Regions from separate parts of the Homo sapiens genome. Here regions 2, 3, 4 and 5 are each linked to region 1. Evidence: fine-mapped expression QTL. A gene starts in region 1. Each other region holds a variant in brackets. All regions are shown on one strand. Distances are from middle to middle. Region 1 holds the start of LINC02035 (long intergenic non-protein coding RNA 2035). Region 2 overlaps SLC49A4 (solute carrier family 49 member 4). Region 3 overlaps HSPBAP1 (HSPB1 associated protein 1). Region 4 overlaps PARP14 (poly(ADP-ribose) polymerase family member 14). Region 5 holds the start of HSPBAP1 (HSPB1 associated protein 1).

Region 1 (6,079 bases):
CAGTGGCCAGCATGAAGTGGGAGCCCAAAACATGCTGGTGAATTATTAAATTATTAGCTACAGATTCCTCAATCCTGGTTCTTTTTTAAAAAAATCTTAATACGATCTGCTTTTATGATAAAATCCATGCCTGACTTTAGAGTGTTCATTATGTTCAGATTGTATAACAAAGTAGAAAAGATCATAGTCTGCTTTAAGATGAGAGAAACAGTTTTCCTAAGAAAAATTAAAGCTTTTAAAAAAAACATGAATGAAACTTCAGGACCTAGATAACCAAGAATTTACTGGTAAAGGAATACTGACAAAAGAGTGAAAAGGTAAGGGAATCAGCAGATGGTTCAATAGAGTAACCTTTTCCCAATTAGATGGAAGGACAATTACAGGCAACAGAATATAGCACGGAGCTTCTGTGCCTAGGTGGTCTATATTAAACTTGAGTAAAAAAAGAACAAATACAGGGACTTCTCTATTCTGAGATAGAAAAGGGTCAAACATTAGGACTAAGGTATCAATTGATTTCTTTTTCCTGAAAAGGTCAAGTGCAATTGACAAAAGAGGAGGAGGGAGGCCCAAGGTAGGGATTCTTTGGGACATGGGGCAAGGATCCTGGAGCCAAAACCCAAGGGACAGCGGAGGTATGGAGGAGAGGGATGGCTTTACTGGGGATACCTGTATTACTTACTACAATGATTTCTCAGCAATAACTCATTGATCAGGAAGAGTGAGTGCAATGCGAATTAGTGAATTCAGGGAAGGACTAAGAACCACCACCTTCAACACACACACTGAACTCTACTGAGCAGGCCCTATTCTTCCTATGGCAGGTAAGATGGGATCGACTCCCTCTCATGACTTCTTCCAGGCACTTTCTGAGTCACAGACCTAAACAGAAACAGGTAGTTATGTGTGTAGGCCAAGGAAGTGATTTTGTTTGGGACTTGTGGATGCAGTGTATTAGGATGGAGGCGGGATTTTCTTAATGCTTAATTTTCACAAGCCTCCAAAATGACATATTTCTGGTGGGGAGGGAAGTAAATTCGGAACTCGGGGCATTTGTAGTAAATGAAATAATTGGCAGGAACTAAAACCTGCCCTTTTTAGCATTCTTTGGGTTTCTGCAAAGGCTCAGGGGGCTGGGACTTCACTAGCAATACATCAAGTGTGATTAGGTTTACTCACACGTATAAACTGAAGGGTTTCTGCAGTCTCCAGCCCCCAAAGTAGCCCTGCTCTATGTGGCTACCTGATATCCCAAATTCTACCATTAGAAAGCCCCCTTTTGGTATTTAGCCTTTGTTCTTGTTAGTATTCAAATTCCCCTTAGAAAGGAGACCCACAAAGCCTTATGAGTATAAGCATCTTAGCATGTATGCATTTGTTAAATTTTGTCTTAAGAGAAGGCTGGGGTACCAACAACATTCCCAATTTCCCATAGGAGTAATAACCAATTCCTCAGCCATGGAATGATGGTAGGGTTGGGATTCCTCATGCAAAAATTAATTCTGTGCCTCCAGACAGATCCAGATCTTACTCATGAAAAGAATATCAGTGGGACAGAATGTCTTTTCCTCAAAATCAGTTATGGTTTATGATTTGAGAACAATATATGGGCTCCTGTTATGCATAATTATTTGGGAAATTGTCACTAGCTCTTTGTAATTGTTAGTTCAGGAGTGTGTTTTTTAAAAAAAAACCTTCTGACTGGGCATGGTGGCTCATGCCTGGAATCCCGGTACTTTGGGAAGCCGGCAGGAGGATCGCTTGAGGCCAGGAGTTCGAGAATGGCCTGGCCAACATGGCAAAACCCCATCTCTACTAAAAATACAAAAATTAGCTGGGTATGGTGGCGCATGTCTGTAGTCCCAGCTACTCGGGAGGATGAGGCACGAGAATCCCTTGAACCCGGGAGGCGGAGGTTGCAGTGAGCCAAGATCACACCACTGCACTCCAGCCTGGGAAACAGAGCAAGACTCTGTCTCAAAACTATCTCAAAAAAAAAAAAAAAACTTCATTTTTCTGATTATCTTTCACTGCCATGTAATTGTACATATATAAATTACTCTGCATACAGAATGAATAGTATACATGGATGAAGGAACGAATAGATATAACAGTCTGAAAGTTTCCCTAATGCTGGCACCTGTAACACATCACTAACAGGGCCTTGTAGAAGTTCCTTATTGGTTTGAGAAGATAATGTATAAACTGGGAGTACTGGTGGAAAAGTATTGCACTCATGTTTTCTACTTTTTGGTTGTGTGTGACCAAGGGGTATAGATCAGAGAACTGTAAAACTTTTCAGCAAAAAGAAACATCTTCTCTGACCCTCCTATTTCAGAAGTGAGGAAGCCAAAGTTCAAAGAGAACAGATGACTTGCCCAAAGCCCCATGTCTTCAGCCATGCAGAAGACAGACGCCCAGACTTCCTGACACTGAGGTTGGTCTTCTGGTTCACTTCTCTCTCTCAGAGCTATTAATATTATGCTCACATTATAGTCACGAGGAAGTCTTGTTGGCCGGACATGGGGGCTCACGCCTTTAATCCCAACTCTTTGGGAAGCTGAGGTGGGAGGATTGCTTAAGTCCAGGAGTTCAAGACCAGCTTGGGGGAACATAGTGAGACCCCTTCTCCATAAAAAATAAAAAATTAGCCAGGGGTGGTGGCATGCGCTTGTAGTCTTAGCTACGCAGGAGGCTGAGGCAGGAAGATCACTTGAGCCCAGTAGTCTGAGGATACAGTGAGCTATGATCATGCCACTGCACTCCAGCCTGGATGACAGAGACTGTCTCAAAACAAACAAACAAACAAAAAAACCCTTGTTTACTAACACTTGAGTACAGATCATTCCTTGACATGCTGAAACTTAGCTCTTATTCTGTAAAATATCTGCACAGTTTACTGGAAGAATCTGACCATGTGGAGATGGCATCATTGCAAAGCAACTTACAATTCTTTGATGCCTTAACTAAAGATGTAAGTTCAAGGATTGGCTTTACTACCTGACCTAACAGTTTTGATTTCTACAAGTGCAAACCCATGCTGCCTCATGATGAATCCAATCAAACCAAAGGACTCGTATCTCGTTTGATCTGATTCTGGTGAGCAAATGCAGTACCCCGACCTGGCTCCCAGTATGCTATCTCAACATCAGATGACAGATTTTTCTCTTATTGCATTTGATACATTTAATAAACCCTGTGTTTCATATATAAAGTCCTTTGGGAAAATAAACAGCACCTGCAGCTTATCTCCTCCCACAGACACTGAAAAAGCAATTTCTTCTTATTGAATGTGGATGCAGCATAAGATTTCATATGTTCACGTACAGGGCTCACATGAGGGGGGCTACCGCACAAATGGAAACACCAAGGTGCTGGGCACCTCTCCAGCTTTACAGACTGCACATGCTTTGGTCATGTTCATATTTAAATAAGAATCAACTGGTATTTCTGAATTAGAAGAAATCTAAGGGAACATTTTTGCTCACTCCCTCATTTTAGAGATGTTGCTAAAGGAGAAATGAAGTGACTTGCTCAAGGTCAAATAGCTGAAGTCACCAGGCCAGGGTTAAGAGCCAGACCCGTGGGCTCCTACACCAGTGCTCTTTTTCTCTGTCCTCTCTAGTAGGGTCCATGAAGAATCTGCATGCCCGGCTCTCTCCTCTCCACCGCTGGCAACTCGTAAAATCTGGGTGTCACACAGCTCGCTCCCAAGCATTGTCAGAAATAAGAAGACACCATCAGAAAGGGGAAAGCTGGATGGGCAAGAAGACAGGAAAGGAAAAAGTGACCAAATGAAGCTGAGCTTCTGGCCTGCTACAGTTCATCATTTCTACTGACAGCTTGAAAATTAGGAAAGACACAGAAGTTGACCAGGAAACAATAAGAATTATCAGAATCTCCATTAGCTATTTTTTCAAAAAACGAAATTGCACAAGCCAGGCTGGGCAACATGGTGAAACCCCATCTCTACGAAAAATATAAAAAATTAGCTGGCATGGTGGTATACACCTGTAGTCCCAGCTACTTGGGGGGCTGAGGCTGGAGGCTTGCTTGAGCCTGGAAGATTGAGGCTGCAGTGGGCTGAGATCACACCAGGGCACTCAAGCCTGAATGACAAAGTGAGACCCTGTCTAAAAAAAAAAAAAAAAATTGCACAAGATTATTCTTTTGGCTTCTGTTTTCTATAATATTGTGTGCCTCTGCAGAGACAGGGAAGCCAAGAAAGTCCTGTGGAGGAAATCTATATGGATTTCATAGGTCGGTTACTCACTTTCTTTTCTCACAGTACAGGGAGCTTAGTTGATGGTGTTAAGAACAGAAATTGTATTTCCAGTAAGAAAACACAATAGTGCATATTGGAACTCAACTCAATAATGCATATTGGAACTCACTTTTGAACTTTAGAATATGATAAAGCTTGATGGTACATAAGCAGGTCTGTGAAACACCTACATTAACCACAATATGCTACATCTGACAGATTCATCTGGGAGAGAAATAAGGATCTCAGAAACTTCTGCTTCTGCCCATAAAGTTTATACCAATATGGTCCAAGAAAGAGATCCCTAGGTGACTCGATTTTAAATGCCCCCCGAGTTTTTATACATAGATATGTAAATGCATACACAAGTTTCTTCTGAAAGAATGAATGATGATACCCTCTGGAGAGAATGGATTAAACAGCATGTTTGTATGGAGGTAGACTTTACTTTCTATTCCTGTACTATTTTATAATAGTTATACACTCATGTATTTCTCATGTAATTTTCAAAACTCTAAAAGAAATGAAAAAAATTACTTAAAAGAATTACTTATGGCTAACACATTGATCATTTAGGGATTGAATGCTGGTCTAGGAGCCAAGTGATCTGCTAAAACCTGGCTGTGTCATTTAACCTAAAAGGTTCTCTACTGATTTGTAAAATGAGGTGGCTGAATTAGATCATTTCTTTGATTCTATGATCCTTCTGGGTAAATGAGAAAGCCAATTAGAATTAGATGAAGCCTAAATTAAATAGTGCTTTAAAAGAAGTATCATTTTCTAACATTAAGGTAAACTGACAGTTTCTCCAAGTTATCCTTGCCATTTTGTTCAAGGTTGCAGAAGCTGTCTTTATAAATCAGAAGAATTTATAAAGTAGGGAATGCGAAGAGTTCTGTGATGTTTGGGTTGATATTCTGGTATCCCCTTTGGAGTCCCAAGCCTTACAATGTACTATGTCCAGCAAGCACGTTTAGAGTTAAAATAGCTTGATGTGTTTTGATTATTTCATCAAAGCTACTGAAATCAATTCTATGCTTTCATTTTTTAGCTAGGTTAAAAAAAAGTTTAATTCTCCCTTGTTGAATGAACAGAACAGCTGGGGCTGGGTAGCTTTTTGTTCTCTCTTTTTGAGAGTGGGCTAAGATGGAAAGCTACTGTTTGAGGCATATCAGATTCTAGAGCACAACCAAAAGACCACATAAAGCAATTAGCCCATATTCTAAAAATGCAACAAGTAATAACTATAGAAACTTGTTAGAGACCTTTGAAATTCCCATATCAAGGAAATACTCGAACTTCTAAAGCTTAGCTGTGAGAAGACCTGTTAAATCTTTCTGGAGCACCTGGGCTTACTCATGTTCTGAGCTTGCTAGCGTCTCGTTCAGGAGAGGAAACTCTGAGCGTATGGCCTTATTTCCTATTCGGGAATGAGAATGGATTTCTGCTGGGGATCCTGGAGAGGGGTTGAGGGTGAAGAAGCCTGTGTCAGAAAGTCAGTTCAAGAAAGTGGAAGGTCTCAGGGACAGAGCTGAGGTCAGATTCATCCAAGGGTTGAGAAAGGTATCTGACGAGTCAGAGCCTCAGAAAATCATAAAGTGATCTAAATCCTGACCACAAACAAATGTAAATCAGAGAGACTGAGGGCCATGTAACTGCCTGTATCACTCCCATCCCCCTGGCCAGAGATGACACCCTCCAAGGGACCCCTACGGGCCTCTGTATTAGTTCCTGGAATCCTCTCCTAAGTTTGAGGTTCCATCTGAACCAGAAGGACACGTGAGGAAATGAGCTCGAGAGCCAAGATGTCTGCTG
Region 2 (6,079 bases), 41 kb after region 1:
ATCTGTAAATATAAAAACTCTAACAGAAATCCTAATAAAGGGAGAAATTTACTAAATATCAAAACTAGTACTTATTTATAACACTAGTATAAATAACACAATTTGGTATTGGTGCAGGGACAGACAAACAGACTAAAGGAATAAAGTCTAGAAATACACCAGTGTATATAAGGAGACTTGCTTACAACAAAGATGAATAGAGGGCAGTGAAGAAAAAAAATGATCTTTTCAAACACTGATATTAGGTTAACAAATATCTATGGGGAAAAAAGAAACTTAACGCCTATAATAAATATAAAATCAATTCTAGGTTTAAATTCTAGGTAAATGTGACAGGTAAAAGAACAGAGCTCCAGAACAGCACTGTCCAACAGAACTTTCTTTGATGATAGAAATGCTCTCTATCTACACCGTGCAACATGGTAGCTGCTAGTCTCATGTGGCTATCCCGCACTTGAAAAGTGCTACTGCAACTAAGGAAGTGATTTTTTACTTTTATTTCATTTCAATTGGTTTAAATATCAATTAAGTTTGAAGTTTATTTTGAATGTGGCTAGTAGCTACTATACAGGATGACACAGTTGTACAAGATAACATATTTATGAACTTGGAGCAAGCAAAGATTTATCTTTCTCTTTTCTGCATTATAGCCTCAGTCTGCTAAATCCAACATCTAGAGTATCTAAGAGTTGGTTTCTAATGATTGCTTTTTTAATTTTTTTAATTTTATGTATCTATATTTGAGACCACCACACCCAGCCAAATAGGGGTCATACTTTCCTGTTTCTTTACATGTTTAATGCACTTTTTTTTAAATTGTATACTGGGCCAGGCATGGTGGCTCACGCCTGTAATCCCAGCACTTTGGGAGGCTTAGGTGGGCGGATCACGAGGTCAGGAGATTGAGACCATCCTGGCTAACATGGTGAAACCCCGTCTCTACTAAAAATACAAAAAAATTAGCCGGGTGTGGGAGGCACCTGCAGTCCCAGCTACTCGGGAGGCTGAGGCAGAAGAATGGCGTGAACCCGGGAGTCAGAGCTTGCAGTGAGCTGAGATCGCGCCACTGCACTCCAGCCTGGGCGACAGAGCGAGACTCCATCAAAAAAAAAAAAAAAAATTGTACACTGTATGTTGTGGATGACACAATAAAGAGATTCTAGATTCTTTTATCTTTTCTAAGATGGCTGGCTTTTGTTCTAGTAGGCAGTTCAATTACTAGTTGATCACCTTGAGCATGTGTAGGCCTCATTTTGTACTTTATAAGGATAGATCTCCAAACTCTCTCCTCTTCAGATTTTTGTCTTTGTTTATAATGGGTCTACACTAGAGTAAGGCTTCCTCTACCTAGGGCATGGTCCTTGATTCTACAGTTTGGCTATTCTGGTTAACAAGTGTGAATGAGGTGTTACCATTCTGGCTGGGCCAGAACTCCAAGACAATCTTGACGTCTTCTATCTTTGTTCTGCTTTCAACCCATACCACTCTCTCTGTTAAGCCTCCAGTAGTTTTGCCCTTTATATGTGCAGCCCATTTCTCAGCCAAAGATTACTGGAGTCCCCCAAAGTCCTCTGGGGAGCCCTCTTCTGCACAGCCCTCTTCTTTACGTATCGGTAAGAAAAAGGCAGCCCAATAGTGGGCAAGAGACTCAAACTAGTATGTCACAAGAAAAAGATATTCAAAATATCCAATTCACACTGAAAAGACACCACAGAAGTCACTATGATGGCATACAACTGCACAGCTATCAGCATGTCTAAAGTGAAAAAGACTAATATTATCACACAAGTGGCAAATGATGTGGGATGATGAGAAATTTTTGCTGGTAGGATTACACATGGATACCACCACTTTGGAGAAGTTTGGCATCATCTACCAAAGTAGCATATACTATACGCAGCAGTTCCATTCCTAGATATGTATCCAGTAGAAATGTGTATAGAGGTGCATAGAGACATGTAAGAGAGTGTTAATACAGCATTGTTTGTGGCTGTCAAAACTGGTTAACAATCCAATCCAAATGTTCACCAAAAGCAGAATAGACAAATTTTTTTTTTTTTACTCATACAATAGAATATCACAGCAGTGTGTTCTCTTCTATTTACCTCTCAAAATTTCTCTCTCCTCCTTTCTACCATGCTATCTGGAAGCAAAGAGAAGGAATGGATGACATCAAGCATATAGGTGAAATGTTTATTTTTAAAGAAATGAAATACCCTTATTTGGAGCCCAGAGAGAAAGTCAGAAACTAGATGAAGAAATAGCTATATATTTGATGATGGGATCTTAATCTTCTTTATAAGGTACGAAGCAAGGATAAAGAATGGGGTCAACAAAACTAAGACTTCCTTCCTTTTTTAAAAAACCAGTAGTATCATTAATAATGCCCACAGAAATGTGAAATTCACAACTATTGTCAAAATCAAGGAGGAAAATCAACATTATTTTTTACCTATTCCATAAAGATCTTGCTTTTGCAACAATGGTATAGGACGATGTTTTACCCAGTCCTTGAAGCTAAAACCAAGAACACGTAACCAGTATTTATAAATTAAATGAACAAAAATACCTACAACATATAAAGAAATAAAATACTTACTTGGCTGACATGCGCTGGTGTTAAAATTAAGTCCAGAACTCCAGACCAGCCAGCAAATACACCAAGTGGTATGGCATATGCTAAAGCAATCATCAAAAATCGAAAATTGCTGTGAATGAGAAATAAAAGGAAACATTGTAACAAATTAAAAATCTAGAATAAACTTAGTCATGAAAAATGTATGTCATTTGGAAACTGGAACACCAGAATCAGAAAATATCTGCAGAATGGCATTAAAAACTCAAAAAAAAAAAAAAAAAAAAACGTGCTGGAAAGGTAGCAGAGAAAAGGAAACGCATATATACTGCTGGTTGAAGTGTAAATTGGTTCAGCCACCATGGAAGGCAGTTTGGCAATTTCTAAAAGAACTTAAAAGAGAATTACCATTTGACCCAGCAATCCATTATTGGGTAAATCACTCCACTATAAAAACACATGCACGAGTGTATTCACTGCAGCACTATTCACAATAGCAAAGATGTGGAATCAACCTAAATGGCCATAAATGGTAGACTGGATAAAGAAAATGTGGTACAAATACACTATGGAATACTCCACAGACATAAAAAAGAACAAGATCACAACCTTTGCAGCAACACGGATGGAGCAGGAGGCCATTATCCTAAGAAAACTAACACAGGAACAGAAAAGCAAATACCACATGTTCTCACTTATCAGTGGGAGCTAAACATCAAGTACATATGGACACAAAGAAGGGAAAAACAGACACTGGGACCAACTTGAGGGTGCAGGGTGGGAGGAGGGTGAGGACAGAAAAACTACCTATTGGATACTATGCTTATTATCTGGGTGACAAAACAATCTGTACACCAAACCCCCATGACATGGAATTTACCCATGTAACAAATCTGCACACGTACCCTGAGCCTAAAAGTTAAAAAATATATATGTATATATACACACATATACACATATGAATAACTATATATACACATATATGTACAATATGTGTATGTACAGGTATATATATATATATATTCTTCAAGAAGCTCAAAGTGGCAAGCTTTATAAAAGAAAAAAATCTGTCAGTTAATAAATTCAAGCTTCTTGAAATTTTTTTTTTTTTTGAAGATGGAGTTCCACTCTTGTAGCCCAGG[A/C]TGGAGTGCAATGGTGTGATCTCTGCTCACTGCAACCTCCGCTTCCCGGGTTCAAGTGCTTCTCCTGCCTCAGCCTCCCAAAGAGCTGGAATTACAGGCACCTGCCAGCACACCCAGCTAATTTTTGTATTTTTAGTAGAGATAGGGTTTCGCCATGTTGGCCAGGCTGGCCTCGAACTCCTGACCTCAGATGATCCACCCACCTTGGCCTCCCAAAGTGCTGGGATTACAGGCGTGAGACATTGCACCTGGCTCGCTTCTTGAAATTTTTTATTTTTATAAGAATAATATTTTGTTCATATTGTTTAAAATTCTCAATGTTTATTATACAGATAACCAATATTATTTCATCAAATGAGTAGGTAGTTTAAAAAAAGCTCTGGCCAGGTATGGTGGCTCATGCCTGTAATCTCAGCACTTTGGGAGACCAAGGTAGGAGAATAACTTGAGGCCAGGAGTTCAAGATCAGCCTGAGCAAGATAGTGAGACCTCACCTCTATAAAAAATATATAAAAATTAGCCAGGTATAGTGGTGTGCACCTGTAATCCCAGTTAATTGCAAGGCTGAGGCAGGTGGTTACTGTGTGCTATGATCACATCACTACAATCTGGCAGTACTTGACAAATTAAGCTTAGACTATTTTATGACCTAGCAATCATGTTACAGGGTCTGTTTTCCAAAGAAATTTTCAGGTCTATGGTGACGTGCATGAGGATGTCACTGCAGTAGTGTTTATGGTAACAATAAATTGGAGGCAATCTGGGTACACAATGAGAATGAGTAGATGAAATGTGATAGATTAATACCATGGAGTACAAAGAACTAGGTGTACACACAGCAGCAGGGGTGCATCTTGAAACAGAGTGCTAACATCACAAAATGAGAGTTGTCCAGATATTATACGCCTCCTGATGAAAGGAAGCAGCATCACTTACGAAGCGGTCTTGTAAAACAAAAACAAAAGCAAAACTAAAACCTGAATCACAACATACTTTACAAGAACCATAAAGGAGAGGGGAACATGTCAAACTATACAATGAGGAAATCAACAAAATCCAGATGTTGGGAATAAAAGTGCTGGCTCCTCAACAATTAAATTATAAGAAACAAAGAGCCATGTTAAGGAAACCTATAGATTCTAAGGCACTTTGGACCAATTGCAATGTGTGGCCCTAATGTGGAAACTGTTCAAACAAACTGTTAAATGTTTATGAGATAATTGAAAATTTAAACACTGATTTGATATTAGCAAATTATTATTTAAAAGTTTTTAGTTAAAATAACGGCACTATATGTTAAAAAGAGTCTATTTTTGACATATATTGCACATATTGAAATATTTCTGGATGAAATGGAGTTGTCATCTGGGATTTGTTTCATGATGCAGGAAGGTGGGAAGTGGGAAGTGGGTGGTACAAAGATAAAACGAGACTGGTTGTAAACTCACTGACAATTGTTGATACCGACTTATGGGGTTATACTATTCTACCTTTGTATATTATTGTAACATTCCCAAATGAAAAGTTAAAAAAAAATAAACCATGTAGTGCTTAGTGAAAAATGTCAAACAGAATGATATGCACAATATGGCATAATTTAGATGAATTAAACATAGATGCATACAAAACAGTACACATACTGCAAAAGCACAGAGACAAAGAGATACACATTAAAGGCATCTGAGAGGTGGCCTGGGTTGGGGGAGGGAAATGGGAGAAGGAAATATAAACGTAAAAAAAGTAGATGAGTAAATGTGTTTACGTGCTGGCAAATAATCTGATTAACTCAGAAAGCAATGATTTCAGGAATTCTATGAGAGACTGGGGGTAATTACACTGGTAGGAAGGGAATGGGGCATGGCAGGCCCACAGAACTCCCCTGGAGAGCCCAAAGGTAGAAGCTGGCATTCATGCAGAGTAAGCAATAAAAGACAAAGGAATGTTAGGTACTGGTGAAAAGGACTCTTTATAGAGAAGGAAGATCTTACACTTTACGGTTTAAACAGAATGAAGAGTTTGACTCTAGGGTAATTAGAAGTAAACACAAGTCAAAGGGGTTGGGGGGACAATTTTAAGTTAACTGTTTTTCCTTGTCAGAACAATCCTGTACATAACTTCTTGGCTTAAAATCCTTCAGTGACTCACGATTTCCTACAGAATAGTCCAAAATTATTAGTACGTCATAATATGACCCCAATCTACCTGTCTACCCTTCTCTATTGCTATCTAACATCTGCAATCTTTTTTTTTTTTTTTTTTTTTTTTTTTGAGACGGAGTCTCGCTCTGTCGCCCAGGCTGGAGTGCAGTGGCGCGATCTCGGCTCACTGCAAGCTCCGCCTCCCGGGTTCACGCCATTCTCCT
Region 3 (6,079 bases), 130 kb after region 1:
CCCTCTTTTCTCTTTGCCTCCCCATCTAGACATCTAGATGTCTGGGTCTCATTTTTTTCTCATACTTCTCTCGCTTTTGCCTCAGATGTCTTCCCTCTATTGGCATAAAGCATAGGAGTGTCTAGTGTTTTGTGAGTTAGAATTTATTACCTCCATTTTCAAAACTGTTTTAAATGACAAACATTTTAACAGTTTTCTTTGAAAATTCCTATATTATACTGCTTTATTTATGTGGCATTATTTGTGCATGTCCACTCCCTAATGGATCAACTTAACAAATGTTTAACTTAAGGAATTTATAACCCAAACAGGGAGAAGTCTGGAAACTATTTGGTGGATAGAACTATGAGTGTTTGCTCTGAATAAGATAAGAATACAGATATTTGAAAGGGTGGGGGTTATTGTGAATAGCTCTAGAGTCAGGGATGAAAACTATTTATGAGAAGGCAGACTTTGATTTGAGATAAGAAAGAATGATCTTATGAACTAGATTCTATCCCAGCAATGTAAGAGGCTGCCTCATGGATGTCCTGAGACATCCATGAGGCAGCCCCTTAGTTGCTACACAACCTTCCACCCGGTATCTGCAGAGGGATTCTAGCGCTGAGTCAGAGATGGACAGGTGACCACTGATGGTGCCTATATTCCCTTAGGGATTGAATTTAAACAAGTAAAAATGAACACTTAGCTTTTGTCTTCTTCCATGTTTTGTCTTAAGGTCAGAGTACTAACTTGTATCTTTTTTTTTTTTTTTTAATTAGGAAACGATGGCATCTCTTTCCTCCTGAAGATACTCCTTTCCTTTATCCAACTAGAATCCCTTATGAAGAATCTAGTGTGTTCAGTAAAATCAATGTTGTCAATCCTGATTTAAAGCGTTTTCCTCAGTTCCGGAAAGCTCAAAGACATGCGGTTACACTGAGCCCAGGACAGGTAATAGGGCTTTAAAACATTAATGACCTGCCAGGGGACACCACAGCTGTAACTCTCTCAAGTCCTTATGCTGTGTGCTTCCCCTCCCTGCGCAGTGCAAATGAGAATGGCTTCCTTCCCTCTGCTCTGCTGTTGGAAGGTAGCTTCCCCAGTTGTAGGCTTCAGACACATACACCTCTGCTTCACAGGTCCTGGAAAGGAAATGGCAAGAGGGAACACAGCTCCTCCTATTGGTAAAGAGGAGAATGGACTTTGGAGGAAGACAGTCTACAAGAGTCATTTTCATTTAGGTCAGGAGAAAATGTTCAAGGCATGGGTACTCGAGCATCTCTGGAACATTTAATCACAGTTAGTATCTGTTCAATTATGATAGCACTGAACCCAGACACATAAACACAGGTCGGAATGCCTCCAGGTGTGGGCCAACGGGCAGAAGGAACCGAGAATGTTTGCTTTTAAGCAAAAATGGATGTTGTTTTCATAAATTACTAACTCTGAAACATTTCCAAAGGTACTGTACATAGTGCTGCTTCCCAGTGAGGAAAATTTCCTTTTCAACATTGGCACTTGCTGTCTGATATTTCATTAATAATTTGAAAGGTTTTCTTAGTCACTTAAGAAGATTTTATTCTCTCGATTATCCCTCTCCCTTGCCTGTCTTCCATCCATTGTACCGGTCTCACTGGCTCTTTTCCTGCTTCCTTCACTCAAGTACTATCAACTCAAACAATTTCACTTGACTGAGTTGCCTCGACCTGTTAGTCACTCTGCATTCCCCTCTCCCCACAGCCCCTGACAACAACTAATCTTTTTCTATCTCTAGATTTGCCCATTCTGGACATTTCACACAGTGCAATATTATAATACAGGGCCTTCTGTGTCTGACTTCTTTCACATAGCATAATGTATTCAAGGGTCATCCACGTCATAGAATGTTACTAGCACTTCATTTCTTTTTTATGGCTGAATAATATTCCATTGTATGGATATACAACATTTTGTTTATCTGTTCATCAGTTGATGGACATTTGGGTTGTTTCTGCTTTGTTGGCTATTATAAGTAATGCTACTTTGAACATTCATGTACAAGTTTTGTGTGTACATATGTTTTCAATACTCTTGGGTATACCTAGGAGTAGAATTGCTGGGTTATATGGTAACCCTGTGTTTAACTTTTTGAGGAGTTGTCAAACTATTTTCCATAGCAGCTGTACTATTTTGCATTCCCACCAGCATTGTATGAGGGTTCCAATTTCTTTTTATCTTTCCCAACACTTGTTTTGCTTTTTTATCATTATTTTTACAGCCATTCCAGAGAGTGTGAAGTGGTTGCCAATTCATTTTCTCTTCTGTGTTTAATAGCCAAATTTGAGTGATTGGTTTTGCCTATTGTATCAGTTTTCCTTACATCCTATCCATTCTTTAATCCACTCAAACCCAGCTCTTTCTGTCACCACTTTACTGAAACTTTACTCTGATAGGACATGCATAACCTACTAATGACTATCAAGTGGCCTTTTATAGTTTCCAGTTTTCCTGAAAGGATCTCTCTTTCTATTTCCCAGTCCTGCCTTGTTCACAGCAAATACCAGTAGTTTCCTAATGTGAAGCCCAAAAGCTTCACATCATTTCCATCTACTCTGCTCTTAATAGGAAATCTCATACTGAGTCTGGATAGATGCCATCCTTCTTGACTCTGCCCATTGCTTTTGTTTATTATACCTTCCTATTTATATCTTAACGTTTAATAAGTGGACCTTTGCAAGTATCTCCTGTCCTTCTCAGACTCTCTCGATACCACTATTTTAACCATCCCCCTACTTAGAATTTCTCAACAACTCCTAGTGCCTACCAGATAAAATCTAGATTCTGAAGTCCGCTGTCCCTAAACTAATTCCCCTACCTTATCTCCCATTATTCCCTCTGTGATAGTAAGACTGACCTACTTGCTATCTTCTGTAGTCCTACCTCCCTCACCTGTACCTCTTATCCTTCCTGGCATGTCCTCATTCTTTCTGTGTCTAAATTCTCTCCTAGCCCGGGTTCAAATCACACTTC[TTCCA/A]TCCATGTTGCCCCTGACCTCCCTAGTTCATGCCTGTTTCACCCACCTCTGAAATTCTGAAACACCATTGTCCCCTGATTTACCACTTCTATAATGCCACCTTTCTATACTTTATCTTCTCATTGGCTAGATTTTGAGCTGTGAGAAAACAGAAGCCACGTCCTATGTGTTTTACCTATGCCCTTTCTCAGAATGCACGCAACTATTTTGTGACGGAAAGGAGGAAAAATTAGAATCTCAGAATCATGTACTAAGATTTAGGTGCAGACAAAGAAGGCCCAGGATTAAAGAGAATAGAGATGCTGGCAGTATCCTTTGTAGAACATGTGAACTTGTCAATAAAAAAGGAATAAAAGGAAAAAAGGTTTGCGGGGTTTTTTTTCTTACTTTACTTTTCTCCAGCAATATTATTGTGAATTCATTTGTATTCCTTTTTTTCCTAGCAGCCTCAATTAGGGTCTGATTCTGACATAAAAATGAAACGTCCTGTTCTTGTGCTAACCATTCTTTGTTTGGTTTTCAGGTTCTCTTTGTTCCCAGACACTGGTGGCATTACGTAGAATCCATTGATCCTGTCACTGTCAGTATAAACTCATGGATTGAACTGGTACTTTTTCGTTGTTTTTTTTTTTTTTTTAAGTAAGTGCAAATCATGCTTTTAAAAGATATATAAGGTCTGGCTGTACAACTGGGTAATTAATTTTTTTTAACCAATGCTTCAGTATTTTTTTGTTGCAGTGCACTATAACGTATGCATTCTGTCTTCTGTTAATGGATGTTTAGGTTGGAAATTGGAATTTTAGTGGTGTGCCACTCTCTTTCTTTTAAGGACACAGAATGCGCCTGATGCTGGCATGCAGGGTCCTTTCCCTTGACCAGTGTTGTTAGGAAAATTGTATTGGGCCTGGCCAGATTTGCCGATATGTGTCCCTTGTTGCCGCTCCTCTTTCACACCATCTGGGCTGGAAATACCTGCTTCTTGGTTCAGGGTCATTACTAATTGCAGAATTCTGTCTTGGCTTCTACATATTCTCAAAGCGGAGTCTTTCTTTCAGTGCTAGGTTTTTATCATTTCATTTCTGCCAGAAGCCTTTCCCTCTGATGTGTTAAGCTTAATCCTGGTTGCCTGCTCTATTTGACAATTAGAATAGCTGCTTGTTATGCTCAAGTCTGTCTCTTCAACTGGGGCCTTAATTGCAGCTGCCTCTCTTTAACCAGAGGCCCTGACTGCATCTCTGCTCTCCTTGACCTGAAGCCTGGATTGCATCTTTCTGCTCTGTTTGACAGCCGTATCCTCTCCCTAGTCTAGTTTTTCCTATCCTTTGCTAATAGGAATGGCTTTGGAATCAGTGGAACAGAAGGAATATTGTTACAGAAAGCTATGTTGTGTGGGCTTAGTGAAGAGTTGTAGCCCTTGAGGCTTAAGTGAGAGGTATGGCAGGAGATCAGTAGCGTCACAGAAATTTCGCCTATAGCATGCTGAACTGGAGTTGCAGCAGATGTCAAGGTAGAATCCATGGAGAACTTCCACTCCCAATGCCAAAGTCATATCTACAATAGCCCTGACAGGTGCTTCACCTCCCAAGGAAGTTCGCTTGTTGTTAAAGAGTAGAGCTGTCATCTTTTTAAAATATTTGAAAATACCTCCAAGTTTTTCCATAATCTTTTCTTCTTCCATGCTCAAAACCTCTTACTTTCTTTAATGGGGTGTTTTTATGGGTGATTTTTTCCTTTTTCCAGACTTTTTACCATTCTGGCCATAGACTTTGGAATCAGGCAACTTTAAGATACAGGTTACCTTTGTTAGCTGTCTAACATAGATAATTACTTAATCTCTTCAAGCCTCCATTTTCTTGTAAAATGAGGATTATAATTGAACCCACCTCAGTAGAGTAATTGGACAACACATTGTAAAAGCATCTAATATAGTGCGTGGCATATGGGAAGTGTTTAAAAAGTAGAAATTGCTATGAGGAGGAGGGAGAGCTATTATGTCAAGAATAGTTCTCTTAATATATAGTGCCTAAAACTGAATATCAGTAGGCCTTATTTGGTAGAGTATAAGATTTCTACCCCACATGATCTCGATCCTAAATATCTCCAGTGCTGCTTGTAATATTGGGTTAGTTTTTTAAGTAATCTCATCTCACTTTAGTTTCATATTCAACTTTAAAATATCTGTGATTTTTTTTCACATGATCTGCTGTCAGGCAGGTTGAATCCTATCCTGTACCTATAAAGCTGATTTTAATTCTAAATCCAGTATTTCACAGTCATCCCTGTTAATTTTCATCATATTGGTTTGGTTGAGCATTCCAGCTTGACAAGATAATTTTAAATTTGGGTCTTATCTGTCATTTTAGTGAAACTTCAAGCTGGCCTGTGCCCTTTTGATATGTCCCCGTTAATTAGACTTTGAGTGTATCCTGGCTTTCTGGCACAGGAAGATATCCCAGGATACCCTTTCTCCTTTAGTGCCCCACACTTGGAAGTCAATCATTTCTCCAGGTAGCCACAGTTCTTTTTGTAGGAAATGGCATTTAGAAACTGAGATCTCAGCTCTAAATCTGTTCATTGCTCCTGGGTGTCAGTGTTTCTAGGCTCTTTCAGTGATGTAGCTAGAATGTGAGATAGATAGATAGATTAGATAGATAGATAGATAGATAGATAGATAGATAGATATTGATGTATTTATATTTCTAATTCATGTGTTTAAAAAATATATCTAGACAGGTAATATGCTGACGTCATAACAAGGCTTAAGGGAGGCATGTCTCACACATGAGCATGACACCCAATCATCAGACTTATGAACTATAAAAGTATCTAATTCAAGTTTAACATGATAGAATTTTTTATTTGTTTCTGTATTTTTATCTCTTCTCTTAACACTGAAAATCTGGGTCCTTAAAAACAGTAACATAAGGCCGGGCACGGTGGCTTACGCCTGTAATCCCAGCACTTTGGGAGGCCGAGGTGGGTGGATCATGAGGTCAAAAGATCGAGACCATCCTGGCCAACATGGTGAAACCCTATCTCTACTAAAAATGCAAAAATTAGCTGGGCATAGTGGCACGCACCTGT
Region 4 (6,079 bases), 180 kb after region 1:
GAAATCACTTCTCAATTTAGAAGCTTTACTGAACCTTGTGTATCTTTAGCCTTCGGAATTTTGTCACTGACGAGATTTCCATTAGCCCTTCTGGCAAATTCATCTGAAAATGCCTGAAATATAAACACAGCGTTGATCATTACACTCCTCAGTAAATGAATAAATTGGAATCATCAGGGTGTTTTGTCCTGCATGCACACATACATATTTGGGAGATAACCATTCTCAAACAGTATTATTTAATTTCATTGCAGATCTTGAAAGTTATAAAAACAACACATGATTCTGTTTCTATAAATGTGTCTAATGAAAATATCAACGATGTGGACAACGATGTGGATAAATACAAGGATATTCACTACAGTGCTATTCATAACAGAGAAAAAACAGTTAAAAATTCAACAGGGAAAAAGTTAAATAAATGTTGCTGTATCCATGTGTTGGAGTATTTATTAGCCATTAAAAATCGTATTTTCAAAGAATTTTTTAAATGAGGTCTTGCTGTGTTGCCCAGGCTGGGGTGTCGCCCAGGCTGGAATGCTAGAGGCGTGATCACAGTTCACTGCAGCCTCGACCTCCTGGGCTTAAGCAATTCTCCCACCTCAGCCTCCCAAGTAGCTGGGACTATAAGTATATGGCACCACACCCAGCTACGTTTTTTGTTTTTTGTGTTTTTTTGTTTGTTTGTTTTTTGTAGAAACAGGATCTCCCTATGTTGCTCAAGCTGGTCTTGAACTTCTGGCCTCAAGTGATCCTCCTGCCTTGGCCTCCCAAAGTGCAGGGATTAAAGGTGTGAGCCACTGTGCCCAGCCTCAAAGAAGATTTAGTGAAATAGAAAATAAAAGCGAAGGATATTAAATAAAATAATTTATAATCACAATCCTTTATTTATTTATTTATTTATTTATTTATTTATTTATTTGAGATGGAGTCTCATTCTGTCACCCAGGCTGGAGTGTAGTGGCACAATCTTGGTTCATTGCAAACTCCGCCTCCCAGGTTCAAGTGATTCTCCTGCTTCAGCCTACTTGGGAGGTAATTTTTGTATTTTTAGTAGAGACGGGGTTTCACCATGTTAGCCAGGCTGTTCTCCTGACCTCAGGTGATCTGCCTGCCTTGGCTGCCCAAGGTGCTGGGATTACAGGCATGAGCCACCGCTCCGAGCCAATCCCACTTTTAAAAGTACATATGTAAAAAAAAGCAGGCTGGAATAAAATCCAACTAAAGAATTTATGCATTTTGCATTGTTCAAAGTTTCTACAATGAACATGAATTACCATAATGGTCAGTCAAAGCAAATAACTTGCCAATTGTAAAAACTACAATGTTAAGAGAATGACCATCACAAGGTCCCAAACACTTCCGTTTTTAATTTCCTATTTGTACCAAAAGAGGAGGGGCTGAGGAGTCATGATTTTTGGAGCAAGTAGCTGGTGTATGTATTCTAGTGTTAATAAACCTGTGAATTTCATTTTTTTTTTTTTTGCCTGTTGGTGACCCTCCATAATCATCATTTTCTTCCTCCTTGTAAACAAGCAACAGATAATTTTGTTGGAAAAAAAACAAGTAACATCTTGGCTAAAGATAGATGCAATAATGGGAGAAGGAACCAGAGAGAGGGTAGAGCAAAGATCTCAGACTCACAGGCTTCTAGGAGCCAGGTAGGTAAGGCACATGTGTAAAGGTGGTCTGATTTGACTATGGAGAACTAGAGAACACCTGCCACTCAGCCATGGAAAACTTCCTGTCCCAAGCAGGAAGCCATGTTTAATGTGCCAGAAGTTTTGAAGTTTTAGGTTGTAGTGAATATCTAGAGTTTTATGTAAAATTTTTGATTTTTAAATGTTAGCAACTGATTGAAATTTTTTTTTAATAATCTAAATAAAGCACATCTAGAGGCCATGTTCAAATCACAGGACTGCTGCTTTGCATCCTCTGTGACAGTCTCCATCTATAAACATCTCGATAAGCTTTGCTGATTTTTTTGTGCAAATGTAACCAAAGTTTAACTGTCTTTAAAAGTCTAAAGAGAAAAAGTGTAACAGACACATACAGAGAATTTCAAATGGTACTAAAGGCATCTGTATAGACTAATTCTTTTTACAGAGTATTTGAAAAATACTCAGTCTTCAGGAAAGAAAATGAATGCTGAGGTTGCATGAAAAAGAGTGATATTTGAAGGTTCAGGTCTGTGTCACAGGACTCATGCTGTATTCAATCACCCATGCATTCAAAAACAGCACTTCATGCCTCTCATTTAGTTCATTTTGTGTATATAAATCTTAGCTCCAAAGTAATTGTGATTTATAGGAGGGAAAGTATGTGCTATTCCTATTCGTCCTGTTCCACGATCCACATCACCTTGCACAATGCAAGTCATAGGGAAATTATTTTAAAAGCTTCTGTTGCACAGAAGAGTAACTAATTATACGGGACAAGTAAATGGACCACATATTTTACTCAGGTGGTTTGGCTGCCTGATCAGAATTCAGGTCAGATTTACTTGCTTCCAAAGAACTTATAGGTAGTATCTAGCATCACAGAAAAATGAAGCATTACCTAAAAATTCAGATGGTCCAATGATCCACAGGTATCTCTTGGGTTGCTGATCTTAATCTGTTTGATCAATTTTTGCAGTACCTTGGGAGCTTTTCAAACACTGAATGTCATCTACTTTATTTGATTAAGTAAAGACTCGGAGTGCAGGGATAATGGCTTAAAAGCCTGTTGTGCTGCCATAATGCTGAGTCCAGTGGCTCTCCCACAGCTGATGTGAGCTGAATCATGAACTCATGATTGATGATAGTTCTGGTGTTTCTGGTCCCAACTCTCCTATTTACATGGGAATGTGCTAATCCATTCTAACCACACCTTCTGACATCTTCCTATTGATAAGGCCAGACTGTGCTTTTATACTATGTATTAAAATTTCTATGTCCATATGGAGGGAAATCCTATAGTCAACTCCATTGCAATATGTGGGCCTTATTTGGATTCTGATTCAAACACAAAGCTGTAAAAACAAAACGTTTATGAGATAGTCAGAAATTTGAGAATTGATTTGATAATTGGTTAAAGGAATTATTGTCCATTTATTTTAGGTGTGATACAATATTGTGGTTATGTTACTTTTTTAAAAAGAATTGTTATTGTTTAAAATAAATGTTGAATTGTTTATGGATAAAATGATATGTCTGAGATTTGCTTCAAAA[G/T]AATATAGAAGGAAGGGAAATAGATGAAGATAGAGATGAAACATATTGGCCATAGGTTGATAACTGTTGAAGTTCAGTGATAGGTACAAGGGACTGCATTATACTATTATGTCTACTTTTGGATATGTTCAAAATTTTCCTGAATAGGAAGTTAAATTTTTTCTACATCTGTAACTTTTCTTAAAATTTGTCATGCTACAACTACAACTACAAGTATAAACTACCTTCTTACTTTCCTGAATGGGGAAATGAATGAAAAAAGTATCCTGTTAGACCAAAAAGACATTTGAAAAAACACTAGGTCTCAGTTGCCAAAATAATCAGAAATTAGTGGCACTGTACCTGAATATTTTCATGATCACTCGGGTGCAGCAGAAAGTGAACCTCTTGTAAAGTTTTCAGCTGATTCTTGCTACTAAATTTGAACACCTCTGAAATGATTAATTCAGCGAATATGTTTTTAGGAAATCCCAAGTTTCCTGTTCCTATTGCTGGAAATGCAATTGATTTTAAGGACAAGCTCTCAGTGATCTCCATACATTCTCTGATTATGTCTTCCATTATCTGAAACGCACAAAGCACATCCTTATACATCTTGTCTAGAAATGGGAGTTAGAACAAAAAGGACAAGAATTTAGCAACTTTGTGAACTTGAATACTCCTTTTTGCTGTCAACACTGATTAAGGGCAATCAGAAGAGGAAAGAAAAATACAGGAGAAGGCAAGGAAAAGGAAAAGAGAATGCGAGAGACTTAAACACATTCACAATGAAGGAAAGAAGCAAAGCAACTACTGTTCTTTTCCTTCATTCTCTTCCATTCTTCACACCCTCCTCTGGCTTTCTTCACTAAGCAAGCAATAATATTATCTTCAGTAACCCTTCCCTGAGCTCCAATAATTATTGAGCACAATAATCCATTTATAGTATTAACTAGTCCTCAGGAGAAGTCAGCTACAGCTGAAAGAAATGGCCACATGATGGAATCTGCCAAAAGAGTGATTATTATGGAAGAGAAACAGACAAGGCCCAATCTATGTCCAATTAATATGCTACTAAAAGGAGAACCCAAAGGGCTACCCAACTTCATGGAGAATTCAAAACCAGGCCCAACCTTGAGTGAAGATGTGCTACCATTTCTCCACTCCGGAGCTACCACGTGAAGCACATAGCGACAGTCCAGATTCCAGCTGCTGGTTTTGAGCACTGTGCCCATGCTGACAGCCACCCCTTGTCCAACTGTGTCCAATTCCTCCTGGAGCTCTGGTCCAGCTTTTTCCAAGAGGGACTTAGAAAGAGGCCCTCTACTAAGCACGAGATCCAAGGGAACGGAGTTGACAACAACATCGGTCTTAAAGACAAAACCAAAAATTTGTTTCAAATTTTAACAAAAAGCATTCATCAATGATTACTATATTTGAGGCACTGGGCTTGGCACAATTGGAGACAACTAAGATGACTACGGTTTCAGTGATTGAAATATCAACATAAGACAAAGTGTGACTAAATACTTATTGAAGTGACACTTAGGAAAAAAAGAGAGCAGTCAAAAAGTAATCTATGAATGGTATGGCATCACTGAAGGAGTCCAGAGAAAGCTGTTTCAGTAACTAGTGAAGATACCATGGGCAATGTGGGGTTTGAGAAATGGGAAGAATTTCAGCAGGCAGAGCAAGACAGGGAGCAGCATGAACATAGGCATGGTGGGTTGTGAGCTGTGAACAGATTAATTTGATCTGAGAGAGCTTCTGCAGCAAAATGGTATGCTCCAGGCTAGAAATGTTACACTGGGGGTAAACTAGGGGGCCCACCTCGAGTGCCAAGACATCTGGACTCCCTGACAGAAAGGGAGCAGCCCCGGAAGCTTTTTCATCAGTGAATGTGAGCAGATTAATCGGGCTAGATTAGAGAGGTCAAGAGAACAGAGGAGAGGGAATGTAACCAAGTGATTTTCAAAGCTGCCCTGCCTGGGTCACTAAGGAGTAATGCAGAGCAGTTATTACAGCCATGGAAGCTAAGCATCTATGGGAGTGAAAGGAAAGCAAACTATGACTGTTTTTTGTTTTTTGTTTTTTTTTTTTGTTTTTTTTTTTTTTTTTAAGAGAGAGGGTCTTGCTCTGTCCACCCAGGCTGGAGGGCAGTGGCATGATCATAGTTCACTGCAGCCTCAAACTCCTAGGGTTCAAGTGATCCTCCCACCTCAGCATTCCGAGTAGTAAGGACTACAGGTATGAGCCACCATGCCTAGCTGGGAAAGAATGTCTTGATATTTGGTGTCAAAAGAGACAAGGAATGAAATTCATTCCCATAACTGATGCTTGGTCCAAAGAGTTTTTATTTAATTTTTTAAAATGAGACACAACATTATTTTTAACATTTTGAAAGAGTGCAATGGTTAAGAGCCTGAACAAATTCCAATCCTGGCTCTACCATTTGCTAGTTGGGGGATGTGGGCAAATTACCTAACCCCTTTAAGTCTCACTCCCTCATCTGTAAAGTGAGAATAATAATAATCCTAGAATCTGCCGCATGGCAGTGAATGAGAACATGCATGTCAAAAACAGCACAGTGCTGGCTGGACATGATGGCTCACGCCTCTAATCCCAGCACTTTGGGAGGCTGAAGCAGGCGGATCACCCGAGGTCAGGAGTTCAAGACCAGCCTGGCCAACATGGTGAAACCCCATCTCTACCAAAAAAAATACAAAAATTAGCCAGGCGTGGTGGCATGCACCTGTAGTCCCAGCTACTCGGGAGGCTGAGGTGGGAGAATCACTTGAACCCAGGGGGCGGAGGTTGCAGTGAGCCGAGATGGTGCCACTGCACTCCAGCCTGGATGACAGAGAGAGACCCTGCCTCAAAAAAATAAA
Region 5 (6,079 bases), 91 kb after region 1:
TTCTAATTTATCCTGCCATGGATAGTAGGTACAATTATAATAAGAAGGGTGCAAATTAACATTTTTCTACCATAAAAAACAAGGTTGGCTAAATTTGGGGAATAATATTGAAAAATGCTCCTGATAAAAATAAAAAGAAACTATAACACAGCATTTTCCCCTGAATTTAGCCAACCTTGTTAAGGGAATGACCAAGGAATTATCACAGATTGGAGGAAACTAAAGAGAAATTACAACTAAATGTAACAGAGGACCCTAGACCGAATCCTGGAACAGAAGAAAAATACATCAGTGGAAACAAATACAATCTTTTTTCTTTTTAAAAAAATATTATTGTAACATTGATTATAGGTAAAGTACTACTTTGGGTTTGTTTGTTTGTTTGTTTTGAGACAGGGTCTCATTCTGTCACTGAGGCTGGAGTGCAGTGGAGCAATCATAGCTCACTGCAGCCTCTACTTCCTGGGCTCAACTGATCCTCCAGCCTCAGCCTCCCCAGTAACTAAGACTACAGGCGCATGCCAACATGTCTGGCTAATTTTTGTATTTTTTGTAGATTTGGAGTTTCACCATGTTGCCCAGGCTGGTCTCTAACTCCTGGGCTCAAGTGACCCACCCGCCTCAGCCTCCCAAAGTGCTGAGATTACAAACATGAGCCACTGAGCCCAGCAGAAACCCAGAGAAAATCAATATTTAGTTTAAAAGCAAACAACAATAACCCAAAGAAAATCTCCCTTTGGTAGGAGAAGCCCTTCTTCGGCATCTAGCACACATCCTCTGCAAAAGTATTTGCTCTAGCTGGAAGTTCTACAGCAGTCAAGACACACCCATTCAGGGCTGGGTATCTTTGTTAGAAGGTTCTTCCTTGTATTGCTTTGAGTTACATTTCTTTGTAACTTGACTCAGTCTAGTTCTTCCTCCTAGAACAACACATAAGTCGAATTCCTCTTTGACTTGATCTTCACATAGTCTATATCTTGCCTCAAGTTTCTTTTTGAAGTGTGATACACACAAGTTCCCTTCATTTTACACATCATGATTTTTATACCCTTTATCATTCTTGTCGCAGAACCTTTAAAGTTCTGCAGTTTGTCAAATGGCCTTCTCAGAATCAAGCTCAGAACTAAACACTAATGTAGAGCCTATCAAACTATTTTGCTTCTTGTTTTGGACACTATGTTTCTATGCCTAAACTGTCCTTTCTTTTTTAGCAGCTACATTATATTGTTGATCATTAAGGAATTCACAATCAACTATTCCTTAGTCTTTTTCACATGGATTCCAATGAAGGAATTCCAGTGAAGGAGGAGAGAAGGAAGTATAACTACTAACATCACCCTGCTATTCTATTCTCTTAATAACCAACTAATTTTGAGTGCTAACTACATGCCAGACAATTGCAATTCTATACCTACCTACACTTGACTTTTGCTGAGGTCTGAATGTGTTCCCCTCAAATTCATATTTTGTTTATGTATTAATTTTTCTGAGACGAGTCTTGCCCTGTTGACCAGGGCAGAGTGCAGTGGTGCCATCACAGCTCACTCCAGCTTCGACCTCCTGAGCTCAAGCAATCCTCCCACCCCAGCCTCCCAACGTGCTGGGATTACTTGAGCCACTGCGCCAGGCCTCAAATTCACATTTTGAAATCTTAACCCTCAAAATGATGGAATAAGAAGGTGCAGCCTTTGGAAGGTGATTAGGTTATGAGGGTGGAACCCATGTGAATAGGATTACTGCCCGTATAAAACAGACCTCAGAGGGATTCCCTAACCCCTTCTTCCATCTTATGTTATAGTGAAGAGACCACTGTGTAGGAAGCAGGCCCTCACCCGACACCGATTCTGCCTGAGCCTTCATCTTGGACTTCCCAGCCTCCAGAACTGTGAGAAATAAATTTCTGTGTTTATGAACTACCCAGTTTATGGTATTTTGTTATAGCAGCTCCAGTGGACTAAGACAACCTTCCAAATCTGACTAAAGAACTCATTGCAACAAAACTTATAAAAGGTTGAACAGAAACTGTACAAAGTAGCTCCCAGGCATTATTCAATTAATAAATATAAAATCTTGCACAACAGCCTCTTGAGGGTAGACTGTCACTACTAATCATTTATCCATACTTATGTGGTAAGTATGCCTTGATTCTCAGCCCTATGGCTTTTTCTTCTCAGAGAATCACACTGGCAAGTGGTAAAGTGAGATGTCCAGGGTACCATTCTAAGCAAGCATCTTCACTCATCTGCAAGCTTTAATTGAAAGTCACAAATCTCAACTGAGAAAGCCATCTAGTCACATACACACATTTTAAAGCTGCCGAGCACCACCTTCCAGAAACCAAAGTGTCAGATCTGAGTTTCCCAATAGCTCTTCCTGGGCTGGAGTCATCTATTACACAAAACGAACTCATTATTTCCTTACATATGGGCACCGTCAATCTATTTTCCGACCTTTCATCCTCAACATCCCCATATCCCTTTGAAGTCAAAGCATCAGTCATTTTTGTCAGGTGTAAAACACATACACCGCACGTGCACGGGGATGCTCTGATGTTCACAATGTGTAAAAACTTGAACGTTTAGAGATCGCTTAAATCCCTGGTGTTGCATAAAGGGCCTTGATAAAAAACATAAATATTTGCAAGGTTGCCTTTCCATATTTGTCGCTTTGGGGACGGAGGGTTCCTAAGTCAGAAATGGAATGCTAGCAACACTCTATCACCTCACACAACCCCTATGCCGGGGCCAAGGGA[G/A]GCGGCTGGCAGGCCTGGAGCGCGGGCAGGCGCCTGCTCCCGGAGGAGAGACAGCGCGGGCTGGCGCTCCGCGACCCCTCACCTCTCTTGTCCAGGAGCCACATGAACGCGAAGCAGGGCAGGAAGCCGATGGGCCCCCACAGCACGAGCAGCGCGATGTCCCAGCTGGAGAAGCCGTAGGCCTGGCGCGCCGAGTTCTGGATGGGACCCCAGGTGTTCCAGACCAGGCCCTGAACGAACGCCAGCAGCGAGAAGAGCAGCAGCACCAGCCAGCGGCGCCCGTATACCCGCCCGGGACCCGGGACCGCCGCGGGCAGCGCCGCCGCCGCCGCCTCCCGGCTTCTCCAGGAGGCCCCCAGCCCAGGCCCGAGCCCGGGCCCCAGCAGCGGCTGCCTCTCCTCTTCGCTGCTCCAGCGAGAGCCCATGGCGACGCGTCGCCCGCGAAGCCACTGCCGGGCGCAGTCCGGGTCACCGCCGACTAGCCCAGCGCAGAATAGTCCTGAGCAGCAGGAGGCGGAGGCTGCTGTGGTCGCCCTCGGCCTCCGGACCGCGCCTGGTGCGCCTGCGCGGCCCGAGCCGGGCCGGCGGGGAGGCGGGGAGGCGGGGCAGGCGGCAAGGAGGCTGGGGTCCGCCCTCCCCTCCGCGGGTGGCGAGGAAACACCGGCGAGAGGAAAGGAGCCAGGTCCCAGACGGAGGGCAGGTAGCGCTGAAAAGGCAGGGACCAGCGCGGCTGAGTCGGGGAGAGGGAAACTCCCAGAGAGGCTGTATTCGAGGAGGTTGGGCAAGGAACCCTGGGGTGTTTGGAGGAAGTGTCCAAGTTAAATCTTGTGCCTAATAAACAACTCAGTGACCTGTTAAGTGACGTCAGTTAACCTGATGCTTGCTTCTATTTTGGGCTTATTCTCATTTTTGTTGAGTTAGTAACTTCAGAAATTATAGGCGAAGGATAAAGTTTAAGCGTAGTTGGTCCCAGGGGATTATCTCATAAAAATCATTTCTTACGTGCAATAAGTACTACCTATTTTTGTTACTTTTTTGTCTTACATATCCAAAGAGGAGATTCCAAACTAGCCAATTTCATTCATATATATGTAAACTTTACCCATTTCGCCTGCCAATAGGCGAGCAATAAAGGTATGTCCAGTAAAGTTGGAAGATTTTTGCCCCAAAGATCCATCTCCAGTGATTATGATTTGACCACAGGGTAAACGAGAAGAAAGGTGGTTGTTGATCTCTTCACACAGCTGTTTGTTTATTTTGGTATACAAATTCAGAAGCCTGACAGCTGTGGATTAGTGTCCTTGAAAACCTAAAGTCAAGCAATTTGGCTTGTCTGGATCGGGAAATGAGTCACAGGGAACGCAATCACAGGATTCTTTGCCCGAGGTTCGTATTTCCCGGCAGCCACTAAAATCAGAAGGAGTCAGGTTACCACCAGAAGGGCAAGAGAGGTGTAAGAGAAGCGTGAGCTAGCCTCGCATTCCAGGCTGCCAAGAGCGGCTCGCGAAAGCTCACGGCAGAGACCCATCCCACCGCCGGAGCCCCACTAAGCGGCAAACCTTCCCCTAAAACTCCAATCCTTTAGGGTGGAGAAAAGCCGAGGTGGAAAGGAAGGATCTGACTAGAAAAGGAGAAACAGAAACGAAGCTAAGACTACAATAAAGAACGCTAAGGTCCGGGTTAGGTAAAAAGCGCCACAACTCAGACCACGTGTTTGTATTTCCACACCCGGGGTATCAAAACAAAGCTGCGTGGTCCCGCCCAGCATCCGTCACGTGACCTCCACGTGAGAGCCGGCGTTTCCGTAGGAGCCGGGCGGGAGTCGCCGGGGCTCCTTCCTGTGGTGCAGCTTCGGGTCTCGGAGTTTGGCCCCTACTCTGACCCCACCCCAGCTCCGCTCCGCCTTGGGTTCCGGCAGAACCCGCCTTGCGGTAGCCATGGCAGCAGGCTCCGAGGCGACCACTCCTGTGATCGTTGCGGCTGGGGCTGGAGGGGAGGAAGGTAGGTGCCAGGCTGAGGTCCGACCCTGAGTACAAACCCAATGCCAGTTGACTCTCGTGGCACCCCTCGTGGGGCCGTTTGCCTTAGCCCCAACCCAGGTCTCTCTGGCCTTGCATTAGACTATGAAGAAAAATCTATATTTTCTAGTGAGCGTGGCATTTCTCGAATTGTGGCATCCAGATTTTTGATCGTCGTAGGGTAGCCTACGAGTGCTGTTTCACGCATGGGGTGTTATTTTTGTTTTGTTTTGTTTTATATTTGCCCATCATTAGCTAAATAGAGGTGTTTTGAACGTTTAGAGGGGATTAAAATTAAATTTGTGAAATTGAAGGCAACCTTTGAGATTAATGGAAGTTATCTGAGACTTTTGTGAACAGGGATTATGCGCTTTTATTCTATTTCAGTGAACCCTGGTTTAGCAAGTGGGGATGAGGTTTGGAGGCCCATGAGCCTGAGATCCCTGTTATTATTTATTGAATGATTGCACCGTGCAGGGCTGTGTTCTGAATACTGTCGCAGGATCCAGAGACTTTTGAATATTTATAACAATACCTTTTCCAAAGGAGCCTAGAAAGGAAAAAGAATGACTTACTATGTGGTCACCTGAACTATTCTACCAGTAGTACACTCTGTGAGGGTTGTTAGGAGGAGGGATCTCAGTGGGGAGAACATAAATGCTTCAAGGAGCGAATAGTTTGAGGTCGGCCTTTCTTTTTCTTTTCTCTCTTTTTTTTTTTTTCTTTTTTTGAGACGGAGTCTCGCTCTGTCACCAGGCTGGAGTGCAGTGGCGCGATTTTGGCTCACTGCAACCTCCACCTCCCAGGTTCAAGCAATTCTTCTGCCTCAGCGTCCCAAGCAGCTGGGACTACAAGCGTGCCACCACGCCCAGCTAATTTTTGTATTTTTAGTAGAGACGGGGTTTCACCATGTTGGCCAGGATGGTCTCGCTCTCTTGACCTTGTGATCCGCTGAGGTGGGCCTTTCTGATTGGATGAGATGGTGACAAACTCAGGGAGTGGTGCTGGGGTTCAGGAAGTCAGGGAGCAGAAAAGGATGGATGTATTTAGGGGTCAAACAGTTTGCTGAAGGGGGAGATGCCCATTCCAAGCAGAAGAAACAAATTATAGCCTCCTACTATCTGACCACTTTCTACCAGGGAGACAATTCTTGACCTTCATCTATACCTCCATTGCATTGATCTTTCCATTTTCTATCCACTGCACCCCCTTATCCAGAATGTATGTCGTTCCTTTGAAAAATTCTCTTGTCCCTTCCTGCACTTTTTTCTGACAAAACTCTTACTCTGGATGAAGTCAACCTTTTGCC

Evidence for each region.
Region 2: its variant is fine-mapped to the expression of LINC02035 in lung (TOPMed, PIP above 0.99).
Region 3: its variant is fine-mapped to the expression of LINC02035 in testis (GTEx, PIP 0.99).
Region 4: its variant is fine-mapped to the expression of LINC02035 in whole blood (INTERVAL, PIP 0.93).
Region 5: its variant is fine-mapped to the expression of LINC02035 in whole blood (TOPMed, PIP above 0.99).

The regions. Positions count from the first base shown.
Region 1 is chr3:122,883,506-122,889,584 of GRCh38, reverse strand. LINC02035 (long intergenic non-protein coding RNA 2035) reads right to left here and starts at 3,072. Exons shown (of 1, transcript NR_024618.1): 1 at 1-3,072.
Region 2 is chr3:122,842,392-122,848,470 of GRCh38, reverse strand. It overlaps SLC49A4 (solute carrier family 49 member 4), which reads right to left. Exons shown (of 9, transcript NM_032839.3): 5 at 2,600-2,708. Among named protein-coding and RNA genes, the nearest start is that of LINC02035, 41 kb to the left of the region's middle. The variant A/C (reference allele first, on the strand shown) is at 3,718.
Region 3 is chr3:122,750,114-122,756,192 of GRCh38, reverse strand. It overlaps HSPBAP1 (HSPB1 associated protein 1), which reads left to right. Exons shown (of 8, transcript NM_024610.6): 5 at 762-933; 6 at 3,519-3,602. LOC124906363 (small nucleolar RNA U13) reads right to left here and starts at 5,821; the gene lies at 5,718-5,821. The variant TTCCA/A (reference allele first, on the strand shown) is at 2,992.
Region 4 is chr3:122,702,224-122,708,302 of GRCh38, reverse strand. PARP14 (poly(ADP-ribose) polymerase family member 14) reads right to left here. Exons shown (of 17, transcript NM_017554.3): 7 at 4,325-4,561; 8 at 3,555-3,776; 9 at 35-113. Among named protein-coding and RNA genes, the nearest start is that of PARP14, 24 kb to the right of the region's middle. The variant G/T (reference allele first, on the strand shown) is at 3,213.
Region 5 is chr3:122,792,291-122,798,369 of GRCh38, reverse strand. HSPBAP1 (HSPB1 associated protein 1) reads left to right here and starts at 4,539. Exons shown (of 8, transcript NM_024610.6): 1 at 4,539-4,753. The coding sequence starts at 4,690. SLC49A4 (solute carrier family 49 member 4) reads right to left here and starts at 3,301. Exons shown (of 9, transcript NM_032839.3): 1 at 2,835-3,301. The coding sequence starts at 3,177. RefSeq lists a silencer at 2,975-3,464. The variant G/A (reference allele first, on the strand shown) is at 2,753.